3 linked regions of the Homo sapiens genome follow. The protein of the gene in region 1 purifies or fractionates together with the protein of each later gene. This does not show direct contact. Each region holds a gene or a part of one and is shown in the gene's direction. Other genes may lie near its edges. The genes, in order: CHURC1, ACTR3B and ACTR2.

Region 1 (3,752 bases):
CTTAGGGTCATCCATGTGAGTTTTCACTTTTCTGCTACAGTATAATACCATGATATCCTCCAACAGCTATTAAAGTGTTTAGGGCTGCTTGTCCCTATACTAAATGACTTCAGGAATGCAGTGTTTTTTTCAGTCTTGTTTCTGCTCAGAATGTCTAGCTTTTTTTTTCTTCTCCAATCTCACTGTCAGTCTGTTGTTCCTTACTTTTGCTGCTAAATAATAAGCTGCCTTCCTATCCTTCTTCTCGTCCTCAATACTGGGAAACCAAATAAACTATGTATAAAAAAATCAATTCTGAGGTTAGCACTAAGGATTTCTGTAAGTTAAGTATATGTATACTTCAGTGCCCAATATTGTGAGAAGTATTTAACTGTTCACATTCCCTTTTTGCTTGTCTCCTGGTTCTTGGGTACCTTCTAAACACATGAGGAATAAATGTACAGGTAATGGTATTTTGTCAGAGGAGTTTGAAAGACAGCAGGCCTTTAGAATGGAGTCAGATAATAATAAATGTTCTAAGCTAGAAGAATCTTTTTCTTTCTTTTTAGCATATGTTTTCTTTAAGCTGTATTTCATTCCAGGCAGTAGGGCATAGTGGTTTAAGAGCAAGGGCCCTGGAGCTAGGCTGTTTGGGTTTGAATTCTGGTTCCAATACATCCTGGCTCAGTCGTCTTGCTAGTTACTTAACTGAAGTATGCCATTGTTTCCTTATCTCTAAAAAGGTGGTGATGATACTATCTACCTCATTGGGTTTTTTAGAAGATTAAATATTTAAAATAGTAAGCACTCAATAAATCATCGTTTTTACTAGATTATTTTGTTACCATTAAATTCACTTTAATGCCCAGCTTTGGTTTTTATTTATGATTGGATATAGTAGCACAGTTTATATTATTCATGATAATGAAAGCTTTTACATAGTTAAATAGGTCCAGCTGGGATGGGTGCGGTGGCTCACGCCTATAATCCTAGGACTTTAGGAGGCCCAGGAGGGTGGATCACTTGAGCCCAGGGGTTCAAGACCAGCCTGCTCAACATAGTGAGACCTCACCTCTACAAAAATTCAAAAAAATTAGCTGAGTGTGTTGGCACATGTCTTGAGCCTCTCCTGGGCTCAAGTTATCCTCCCAGCTACTCAGGAGGCTGATTTGGGAGGATAACTTGAGACTGGGAGGTTGAAGCTGCAGTGAGGCATGTTTGTGTCACTGCACTCCAGCCTGGGCAACAGAGTAAGACCCGGCCTCAAAAAAAAAAAAAAAAAAAAAGAAATTGATCTAGCTAGTTTAAAAATACACTTAAATATGTTTTAACTGCTTCTCTTAAAGAACTTTTGGTGGCAATTAATAAAAGCTCAGACTCAGAATTATGTAACGTTGTTATGTGGCAGATTCTGAATCTTTTAAAAATCAAGGTAGATACTATAATGGGTTTCCTCCTATGTTAAATATGACAGACTTAAGATTCTCTTTAAATAATATGCTGAGAATAGAAATTTTAATAGAAGTTTTAAGAAACTCTCTAAGACTTAATTACGTAAGTCTCTCTTTGTTTTAGCAGATTTGTGTAAGAATTGTCATCATGTAATAGCCAGACATGAGTATACATTCAGTATCATGGATGAATTTCAGGTAAATATAAATATGGGTATAAATATAAATATGGGGAGGTTAGGGGAATAATAAAAGTGCTCTTGAGAATCTAAATACGGTTTTCATAAGTGAAGTGCAAAGCGTTAGCATATATTAAAGGAGACTATGCCTTTTTTTTTTTTTTTTTTTGAGATGGTGTCTTGCTATGTTGCCCAGGCTGGTATTGAACTCCTGGGCTCAAGCAGTCCTCCCACCTCGGCCTCCAAAGTGTTGGAATTACAGGCATGAGCCACTGTGCCCAGCCCCATGCCTTTCTTATATCTGTGCAAGTTGAGAGACAGACTTTAGATGTGGGTGGATTTGTGTAAACCTGTCTTCACGAGAATCACAAATCAAAATGTGTAGTTTACAAATGATATCTCAGCCCTGTCATTTTTGTTTATAAAGAATAGTAGCACATTCTAGCTTCTTATGAGATTACCATTGTGCTGCTTTTTTTCTGCCCAGTTACGTGATTGCACAGTTGTGGGCTTTTAAGTGGTGTCCTGTCAACTGCCACCATACTTGCCCAGCATGGAAACTGTGATAAGGAGGTTTTCTTTGTTTTCCCAAGTTGACATGTAGAGTTGAACAACTCTGCAGTCTCATTTGTGGTAAGACATTATAGTATTGTTAAGTAAAATTACAAGCTGTGTGTACCATGGTTGGAGGAGAAACACAGAACCACTGTGAAGCTGGAGATTAAGAGATTTATCATAAGGATTAATCCTTACACAATTGTGAGAGTATGTGAAGAATTCTCTGGAAGGTTGATATAGGCCTGTAGTTGCTGAAGATACACAGGTCTGACGGTCAGAAAGAAAAGCTGGGCAGTCGGGGAGAGCCAGGGACAAACTGAAACCTATCTCTGTCCCTCACTGCCTGTTTTCAAGCCTTCAGGTTGAGTTACTTATTTTGTGTGAACTACATATTTGTCCATAGGATATAAATATCAGGCTAGAGCTTTTAACAGCCGAGAGAATTTTTTCAATTCCCTTCACATTTGGATAGTACTTAATTAGGAAAATAATAATAATCTTCCATAGCAGAATCATAAGATAGTAAAACCCCTCTTATTCCTTATTTTAGCATGGAAGAAAGTGCTTAGTCACCTGTCAGAGTCTGGTCTGATATGTTGTGGTTAATCTAAAATAACATCTTGACTATATTTTATATTTCTTCAGCATCCAAAAATTATGCCTCAAGAAATATTTATATGATATGCGTAACTTAGGGCAAAATTGACATCTTAGTGAATGAGTAGTGGCCGCATAGGGAGATGAGCATCTCCTGGGCTTAAAGAAACAGTCCTATTCTTTTATGGGAGGAAAGGAGTGCTTATAGCTATTTTCAAGACACTCCTGAATTTCACGTGAGTTATGTACAGCTCCTGAACGGATATTGAGGTTGCCTGTTTATGTCCTAACCAAGCCATTGTAAATTAGCTAGACCAAAGTCTAGCTGATTTTTCCTTTTTGACTGAATGCAGCCGTTTTCAAAGCTGCCCTGGAAATTACTCTGGGACAGGAAGAAGGTAAAGGAAGGTGGCTTGTAGTCACGATGCAAGAAACTATGAAATGGTGGTGAAAATGATTCTTAAACTAGACTCTCTACTCCCAGTCTACTTCTCCCCCCACCCCCCCCCCCGCCGTCAATTCATACTCCATACTCTACCATCATATTAATTTTCTTAAAATAATGTTTTCAAAGCTGGGCACAGTGGTGTGTGCCTATAGTTCGAGCTACTCAGGAGACTGAGGCAGGAGAATCTCTTGAGTCCAAGTGTTTGAGTACAGTCTGGGCAACATAGTGAGACCCTGTCTCTACTAAAAAGTAAAAATAAATACTTTTGGGTGACCTCATTGGCCTTCCCATAGTGCACCTTTAGCTACAGTACAATATCCAAGCTCCTCATTTCAAGGTTCTCACTGGACTGGCCCAGCTTCCCTTCTTTTATTTCCTGCTACTCTTTCATATGTACACCATACTTAGCATTGTCCCAACTTTACTCTTCCTTCTCTCCTGTTAGAGAGAAAGATTTTTATTTACCCCTCTCTAATGCTACCCCTACTGCATTTCCTCAGGAATCTCATGTTATCGTCTTTCTTTCCAGTGTACTTTGAT
Region 2 (3,752 bases), on another chromosome or scaffold:
GTGATCCGCCTGTCTTGGCCTCCCAAGGTGCTGGGATTACAGGCGTGAGCCACTATGCCCGGCCTAAGCTCTTTTTCTAAGACACGTGTGCTCACGCATGCGTGCACACACACACACTTTAAACACAATTGGAATGTCTCATGTCTGGTTTGGGATTCTACATATAATACAATCCTAAGGTTATATTTTGCGTATTAATTTAACCCTAGTTTTTTTCTCTTGTGGTTAAATATTCTGTGAAAATACATTTAAGAAGTACATAATTTATTTTTCTGTTGTTGGACATGTATCTTGTTTTAATATTTTTACCACTGTCATGAGCTGATATTTATTTAACAGTATTTTAGAAAATGTTACGTGTAATGCATAGAATATAATAATTGTGAATAGTTTATGTATTAGAAAGCTAATATTATTTTTATGGGTTTAAGTTGAGTTTTAGTAATTTATACTTTTATCTCCATCTTAAAATACCTTACAAATACTTGGACTCTGCAGAAAGGCTACTTTTTTTGCTTCTAGAAGTTACGTATATCAGAAAGAAACCATAGGAGGAATTCAGTAAGTTGTTCTTGCAACTTTACTGGTGACTAGGTGCAGCTATTAGAATGAATACATCTGTAAAATGAAGTCAGCGTTTCACTTCTGTTCCCTTCTGTCTCACTTGGGGACTGTGGCACAGAAGCTGTGATGTGCTGTAACGTGAAACCTGAGTGTCTTTACCGGATGATCCAGCGGTGGGCGTTGTCCACTCTGACGGTCAGCATCCTGCTCATCCCCTGGAGAACAAGCTGGATGTGTGTCCAAGCCTGTGGCTCCTGTGGCAGGTCTGTGCCCACAGGAAGGCTGATGAGGGAGCTTTGGGCCCATCATTGCTGTGGGCATGTGGACACTTGACACTGGCCCTGCCATTGATCGGCCCAGGGCGTGGTCACCCTCCTTTCCTGGCCCCTCACAGACATGCCTTCACTGGCTTAGGGAGGCAGTGGAATGAGAGGCTCCCAGCCCCCAAAACCAGTGCTGTGTGCTCGACACACGCAGTTTCATCTGAACTGTATCATTGGCCCCAGCAGGGTATTGTTTGCCTCATACGATGGACAAACGCGCTGAGGCTGAAGCATGTGAAACTTGCAAATGTGGAGCTGGGATTTGAGTCCAGGTTGTTAGAATCTAAGCCCTGTGTATTAACCAAATTGCTGACTTTTAAACGTAAGTAGATTTATAGTTGGCTTAACAATTTATAAATAAAACTTTTTCCTTTTTATCAGGGAAAGAACCTATTGGGTTTAGTGTTCTTACAGACAGCATTTCTTTTTGGAAATGAACTATCTTATGTGGTTTTTCTTTTCATATTCCTAATGAAATCATTTTGGTTGCTTTTAGAGAGTGTCAGGTTATTGGAATAATCTGGAATTTTGAATATTAATGGAATTGCATATGCAGTCATTTTGAAAGACCTTCTGTACTGAGCTTGCAGAGGGTGGGGATTATGTAAATGCTTGTCAGTGCCATGAGGGGCAGACAGGGAGGCTGAGGCAGGAAACCTTGTGAGTCCAGGCTGCTCTCCACCACGAAATCACTAACACAGCTGTTCTGCCTCCTCTTCTTCCCTAGGCAGAAGGTTATGTAATTGGAAGCTGCATCAAACACATCCCGATTGCAGGTAGAGATATTACGTATTTCATTCAACAGCTGCTAAGGGAGAGGGAGGTGGGAATCCCTCCTGAGCAGTCACTGGAGACCGCAAAAGCCATTAAGGTAAAAACAGATGGGAAACCGGCCGGTTTGGGGGTGAGAGAGATGGTGTTCTGGACACTTCCCCTTGGTGCCATCATCCCTGCTCCTCCTTTCCTTCCTCTCCCCTTCCCATGAATGTGGGGCTTGATTTGTTTTACCCCTTAAGTGGGCTGAAGATGTAAAGCTTAACCTCTTCCAAACTAGATGCTTTGAGGTTTCAGCTGTCACTGAGAACAGCTTGGTAGCTGGTGCAGCGTACCAGCGTGCAGAGGCAGCATTGTTCAGCTGGAGCCTCACTGCTGGAGCCTCATCTACCAGAGGGCTCCTTCCATACTGCCTCCATGCTTCGCTGTAGAATCAGGAGGCGACCACAGCAGCAGAACACTGCCACCCTAGGATCCAGAGCTATTGCACAAAATTCACACACAGGTGTGGCTGTGACGTGTGGCCATAAGCATCTTCTTCCTTTATGGCACAGTTTCTGAGTGTAGCAGAGCTTGATGGGGGTGAGCCCAACACCCACACTTCTCCTCACTGCCTTCCTCCCTTCTCAGCACCTCGTAACTGAGGCTGGCTGAAGGAAAGGAAGCACCAGAGATGATTCCCGAGGTGTTTTTAGGTCAGGAGGCACTGGCATGAGGCAGGCTCTGCAGTTGGGTATGACCTGCCCTGCTTTACCTGGGACCAGAGATTCCTGGGAAGGGGGCTCTCAGCGCTGAAATGGTGATGTGGGGAAGACGTGGTCCCTTCCATCTCAGGGGAAGGTTTCCTGAGGTATCATTAGATATTCTTTTTTAGACTAAAATATTTCCTAAGGGGTCACCTTCTCCTTTCTTTGCCTTTCCTCCATGGAAGAATATTTGACTATTTGATCCAAGCTCCCTTGCCACTCCAAATCTGTTAGAAATGTAAGTCAGAATTGAGCCCCTTCATAGTGGCTCACATCTATAATCCTAGGGCTTTGGGAGGCTGAGGCTGGAGCATTGCTTGAGGCCAGGGTTCGAAACTAGCCCAGGTGATATAGCGAGATCTCGTCTCTATTTCAAAAAAGAAAAAAAAAAAAAGAATTGAGCCTTTTGTTATTGACGCCCAGGGTCCACTCCAGTGAGTCTGAGTCCTCCCTATTTCCGCCAGGATTGCTGAGCAACACTGCCACGGAGGGGCTTTCCTGACCCTCATGCTGGGCCTTCAACTCTCCACACGGGCTGTTGGGGTTCCAATTTGGACCCTGAAATCTGGGCTGATGTGCTCGATGTGACTGTGTGTCTCCCCCCTGTGAAGGCTGGGAGTAAAAGAGACTGTTCATAGCCTCCGAGTCAGCTGCCCTGGCCCTGCTGTGTGGGGTAGCCCTGTTAGTTCTCACCTCACTTCTCTCTTTGAAGGAACAGATCCTGAAAGGCGTGGTTTAGAGCTCCCCCCGCTTCCCCTTACTGCCATGGCCTTCTGTGGTTGTGAACAGGCCTGAGGGAGTGTGTAACGTGAGCACACCACCCTTGCAGCATGAATCCTGAACCTTAAGGTTAAGCCTGTTACTCTGCACCCAACTCAATGGAAACATTTCCTAGCAAGCATTTGAGTTAAGTAAGCTGAGATGCTGTAGGATGTTGACCAGGCCTGTGAGGAGAACTGAATGCCTTTGTCTCCAGTCTTGGTAGATTTGAGGTTGTAATCAGCTGACCCTGTTTCTCTGTGTCATCAAAGAACACAGGGTTGTGTAGCACTTCTTGCCTGTCAGTCTTCTTAAAATTCCGCTAGAGTATATCCAAGATACCCAGAAGATGGCATTAGAATATGTTTCAGGGATGCTAAGAAACTTTAAACTTAATACCACGAGAGCGTCTTTGGAGGTCCTTGAGAGAGCCATTCCTTCCACGGTGTGCTCAGCGCCAGCTGGGCGGCCCACCTCGTGCTTCCCGTAGGCAGCAAGTATCTGGGGGTCACCTGCTGCTATGCGGAGGCCAGCTCTAAGGACACATATCAACACAAAGGTGTCCAAGAACATTCATCTTACCAGA
Region 3 (3,752 bases), on another chromosome or scaffold:
AAAAAGGTAGCATAAAATCATGCCTGTCAAATATATAGTAGATTAAAAAGGAGAAGGTAAACATTTGGGAGTGCATTTCTAACTTTTGAGGTGGGTTTAATGGAGGGGACTACTTATATATTCTCTTGATATTGCCATTAGCAACTGCCTCCCTCTTTATTGGAAATAAAATATTGGCCACGTTGGGAGAGCTCTTTTTTTTTTTTATGGTCTTATAAATTCAACAGGAACTTACTGAGAATGTCTGGGCCTGTCAGATATGTGCCAAGGAGTCTTTTAGGCACTTCAGGGGATAATCCAGTGGGAAAAGAGTGTGGCACTGGAAATGGGTCAAGTGTGTTTGGAGAAAGGCCAGTATGTGTGTGACCTGATGGAAGTGGTAGAAAATAAGGTGAGGTGGGTAGGGAGGGCTCTTTGGGAAATAAAATGTAAATTCTTGCATTAGTCAGTGTTCCTGGGAGTATTTTTGAATTGATGATGGTGTGAATTCCTCCTTTTTTTTTTCTTTTTTGCAATGGAAATCCTCTTCTTTTTAAAAGAGTACAACATTCAAGGGCTGTATATGAGTTTTATGAGGCTTATTGCATCAAGGAATTATATCCACTTAAAAAGGAGGTAGTTTTAGGCCGGGTGTGGTGGCTCACGCCTGTAATCCCAGCACTTTGGGAGGCCGAGGTGGGTGGATCACGAGGTCAGGAGATCGAGACCATCCTGACTAACACTGTGAAACCCCGTCTCTACTAAAAAAAAAATACAAAAAATTAGCTGGGCATGGTGGCATGTGCCTGTAATCCCAGCTACTTGGGAGGCTGAGGCGGGAGAATCGCTTGAACCCAGGAGGCAGAGGTTGCAGTGAGCTGAGATTGTGCCATTGCACTCCAGCCTGGGCGACAGAGTGAGACTCTGTCTCAAAAAAAATATGTAAATAAAAATAAATAAAAAAAGTTTTTTTGACCAGGTATGGTGGCTCATGGCTGTAATCCCAGCACTTTGAGAAGCCAAGGTGGTCAAATTGCTGTATCTCCAGAGTTTGAGACCAGCCTAGGCAACATAGTGAGATCCCTATCTCTATAAAAAGTAAAATTAGCTGGGTGTGGTTGCACATGCCTATAATCCCAGCCACTTGAGAGGCTGAGGTGAGATGATCACTTGAGCCCAGGAGGTTGAGGAAACAGGGGAAACAAAGCAGCTTCTTTGCTGTTCTTTTATTATGAGGTTTAACTGACATTGCCTTTTATTATAAGTTCCAGTGAATAATCAAAGTGATGCTTTGGCTAGCCATGTTTAATTTTTCTTAGATTTCTAGCTGTCTAGTATCAATAGGCATTTTTCCAGAACACACAGTATATGTTATTTGTAGTATATTCAAAACTATCTAAGTTGAAAAAAATAAAGAATTGTACAGAGCTTTAAGAACGTGTTCTGCTGGGTGTGGTGGCTCACGCCTGTAACCCCAGCAGTTTGAGAGGCCAAGGCAGACAGATCACTTGAGGCCAGGAGTTCGAGACCAGCTTGGGCAACATGGCGAAACTCTGTCTCTACAAAAAAATTACAAAAATTAGCCAGGCATGGTGGTGCATGCCTGTAGTCCCAGCTGCTCAGGAGGCTAAGGTGGGAGGTATGACTTGAACCCAGGAAATGAAGATTGCAGTGAGCCTAGATTGAGCCACTGTACTCCTCCAGCCTGGGTGACAGAGCCAGACCCTGTCTCAAAAAAAAAAAGGAAAAAAAAGTCCTGTTTTTCAGTCCTCAGTCTCAGGGTCTGTTTCTTCTCATCTCCTTGGACAGCACATAATAGTAGACTAAAAGTCTTAAAAGAGAACACTCGCTTTAATACTTATGCATTAGAAACAAACTGCAAAATAACTAAATAATAAATTCTGGCTTCTAGTTGGTTACGTTTCTGTTTTGGCTTCCCTACTGTATTTGGAACTCGCTGGCTTTGGTTTTCCTGATTTGACTTTTTATTTAAATCCCCCTGGCTTTTATGCAGGTTTATTGACTGGTGTAGTGGTAGACTCTGGAGATGGTGTGACTCACATTTGCCCAGTATATGAAGGCTTTTCTCTCCCTCATCTTACCAGGAGACTGGATATTGCTGGGAGGGATATAACTAGATATCTTATCAAGGTAAGTGAAAGGAAAATATCATGGAAATTAAATTTTGTAATTTGTTTACCACCTTAACACAGAATTGAATCTATCGTTTTAGGATTCCAGCAAATCTGTACCACTAGAGAAATTATCCAATTACCTCCCTTATTTATATAAAAATTCATATAAGATTTATACACATGAAGAAAAAAGAAGATACATTAAAAACAAGGAAAAAAGTGTACACACATGATCTCTGTATACTAATGAGAGTACATTATATCATTACATAATTATATTTGTTATTCCTGAGGAGTGAGTAGACAGATATTTCAAGGATAGAAGAGACCCCTAATTTGAAACTTTCTTGGACAGCTCAGGCAGCCTTTTCTGCCATAAAACCTTTCTTTGAGCAGGTATGTTTTAAGCCATGATCTTGGTTGGGTTGTCTGCTCTTGTCCTTTCCTACAAAATACAGTGATAGCAAATTAATGATATTTGAGGAAAACAGCCCAAATACGCCAGACTTTAATATTTAGTAGTTTTCATGGAATAGATGCAGTTTTTAATATTTACTATTTTAGTTTATTTCTGAATATAACTAGTTATAATTTTCTTTAAAACATTACTGGAGAAAGTACATAAGGTGTCTACTTGCTAACATATATCATTTTTAATATTAAAATAAAATTTAGAAAATTGTTTATACCACAATTCTATAATCAGTCTATCCTCTCCAGGACAGTGGTTCTCACCAGGGGACAGTGCTGTCCTCTGGGGGATATTAGCAATTTCTGGACACATTTTTGGTTGTCTGAGCTGGGCAGGAATGCTACTGAACATTCTATAATGAATAGGGCTGGCTGCACAACAAACAATGTATAGTCTGTCAGTGGTGCTGCTATTAAGAAACCCTGTCTCTGCATTAAATTGGGTTGCACTGTCTTTACCTTGACATTGGGTTCCTTCAGTCTCATTTAAAGTAATCCTCCTCATGAGGGGAGATTAAATTAATGAGAATTATAATACTCTCATTTTAGGCCAAAATTCAAAGCGTAACTAACAGAATTTCTGGGGTTGTCTTTAGAACACAGACTCAAATATTAGAGGATTTTTTTTTTATTTGTAAAGTCTAGTAATTTTTTTTCTCTCAGTGGGTTTTTAAAAAAATAGTAGTATTTTCTAGCATTTAAGAAATGTAACAATGGAGATTATACCTTTGAGTATCCCAATAATTCCCTTATCATTCGTTAAACAAATGCTATTGTCCTTCTAATATGTGCCAGACACAGTACTAGAAGCTAAAGATAAAACTTTTAAAGACTTGGGGGCATTTCATAAATATGGCATTAATTGTGTGAGCAAACTGCAGGCTACAGGAGTCCAGTACTAAAATAATATTTATTCATTAATATACTTTTGATTGTTTATCAAAACTATCAAAACATTAGTACTCATGCAGTGCTTTTCAAAAACTGACTTTTCTAGTCATTTTACTGACTTACTTATGAATTGTTAATTCTTTTACCCTCTCTGAAACTGAAATATAAATCCTTTTATGGCGGATAAAATCCTGCTTCTGAAATAGTAGGAGCTGAGGATCCACTGCCCATTCTGTTTGTTATTGATGTGACATATTTAATGAGCATTACTAGCTT

What was found.
Region 2: the proteins of CHURC1 (region 1) and ACTR3B purify together in Homo sapiens (affinity purification with mass spectrometry; 3 studies listed by BioGRID and IntAct, with this or other methods). This does not show direct contact.
Region 3: the proteins of CHURC1 (region 1) and ACTR2 purify together in Homo sapiens (affinity purification with mass spectrometry; 4 studies listed by BioGRID and IntAct, with this or other methods). This does not show direct contact.

What each region holds. Positions count from the first base shown.
Region 1 is NC_000014.9:64,924,453-64,928,204, forward strand, and holds part of CHURC1 (protein Churchill), read left to right. Parts: intron 1-1,554; coding exon of another isoform or gene 1,555-1,557; coding exon 1,558-1,628; intron 1,629-3,752. Other genes in the region: CHURC1-FNTB protein, read left to right, coding at 1,558-1,628. UniProt on the Homo sapiens protein: Transcriptional activator that mediates FGF signaling during neural development. Plays a role in the regulation of cell movement.
Region 2 is NC_000007.14:152,818,685-152,822,436, forward strand, and holds part of ACTR3B (actin-related protein 3B), read left to right. Parts: intron 1-1,614; coding exon 1,615-1,758; intron 1,759-3,752. UniProt on the Homo sapiens protein: Plays a role in the organization of the actin cytoskeleton.
Region 3 is NC_000002.12:65,251,735-65,255,486, forward strand, and holds part of ACTR2 (actin-related protein 2), read left to right. Parts: intron 1-1,993; coding exon 1,994-2,130; intron 2,131-3,752. UniProt on the Homo sapiens protein: ATP-binding component of the Arp2/3 complex, a multiprotein complex that mediates actin polymerization upon stimulation by nucleation-promoting factor (NPF).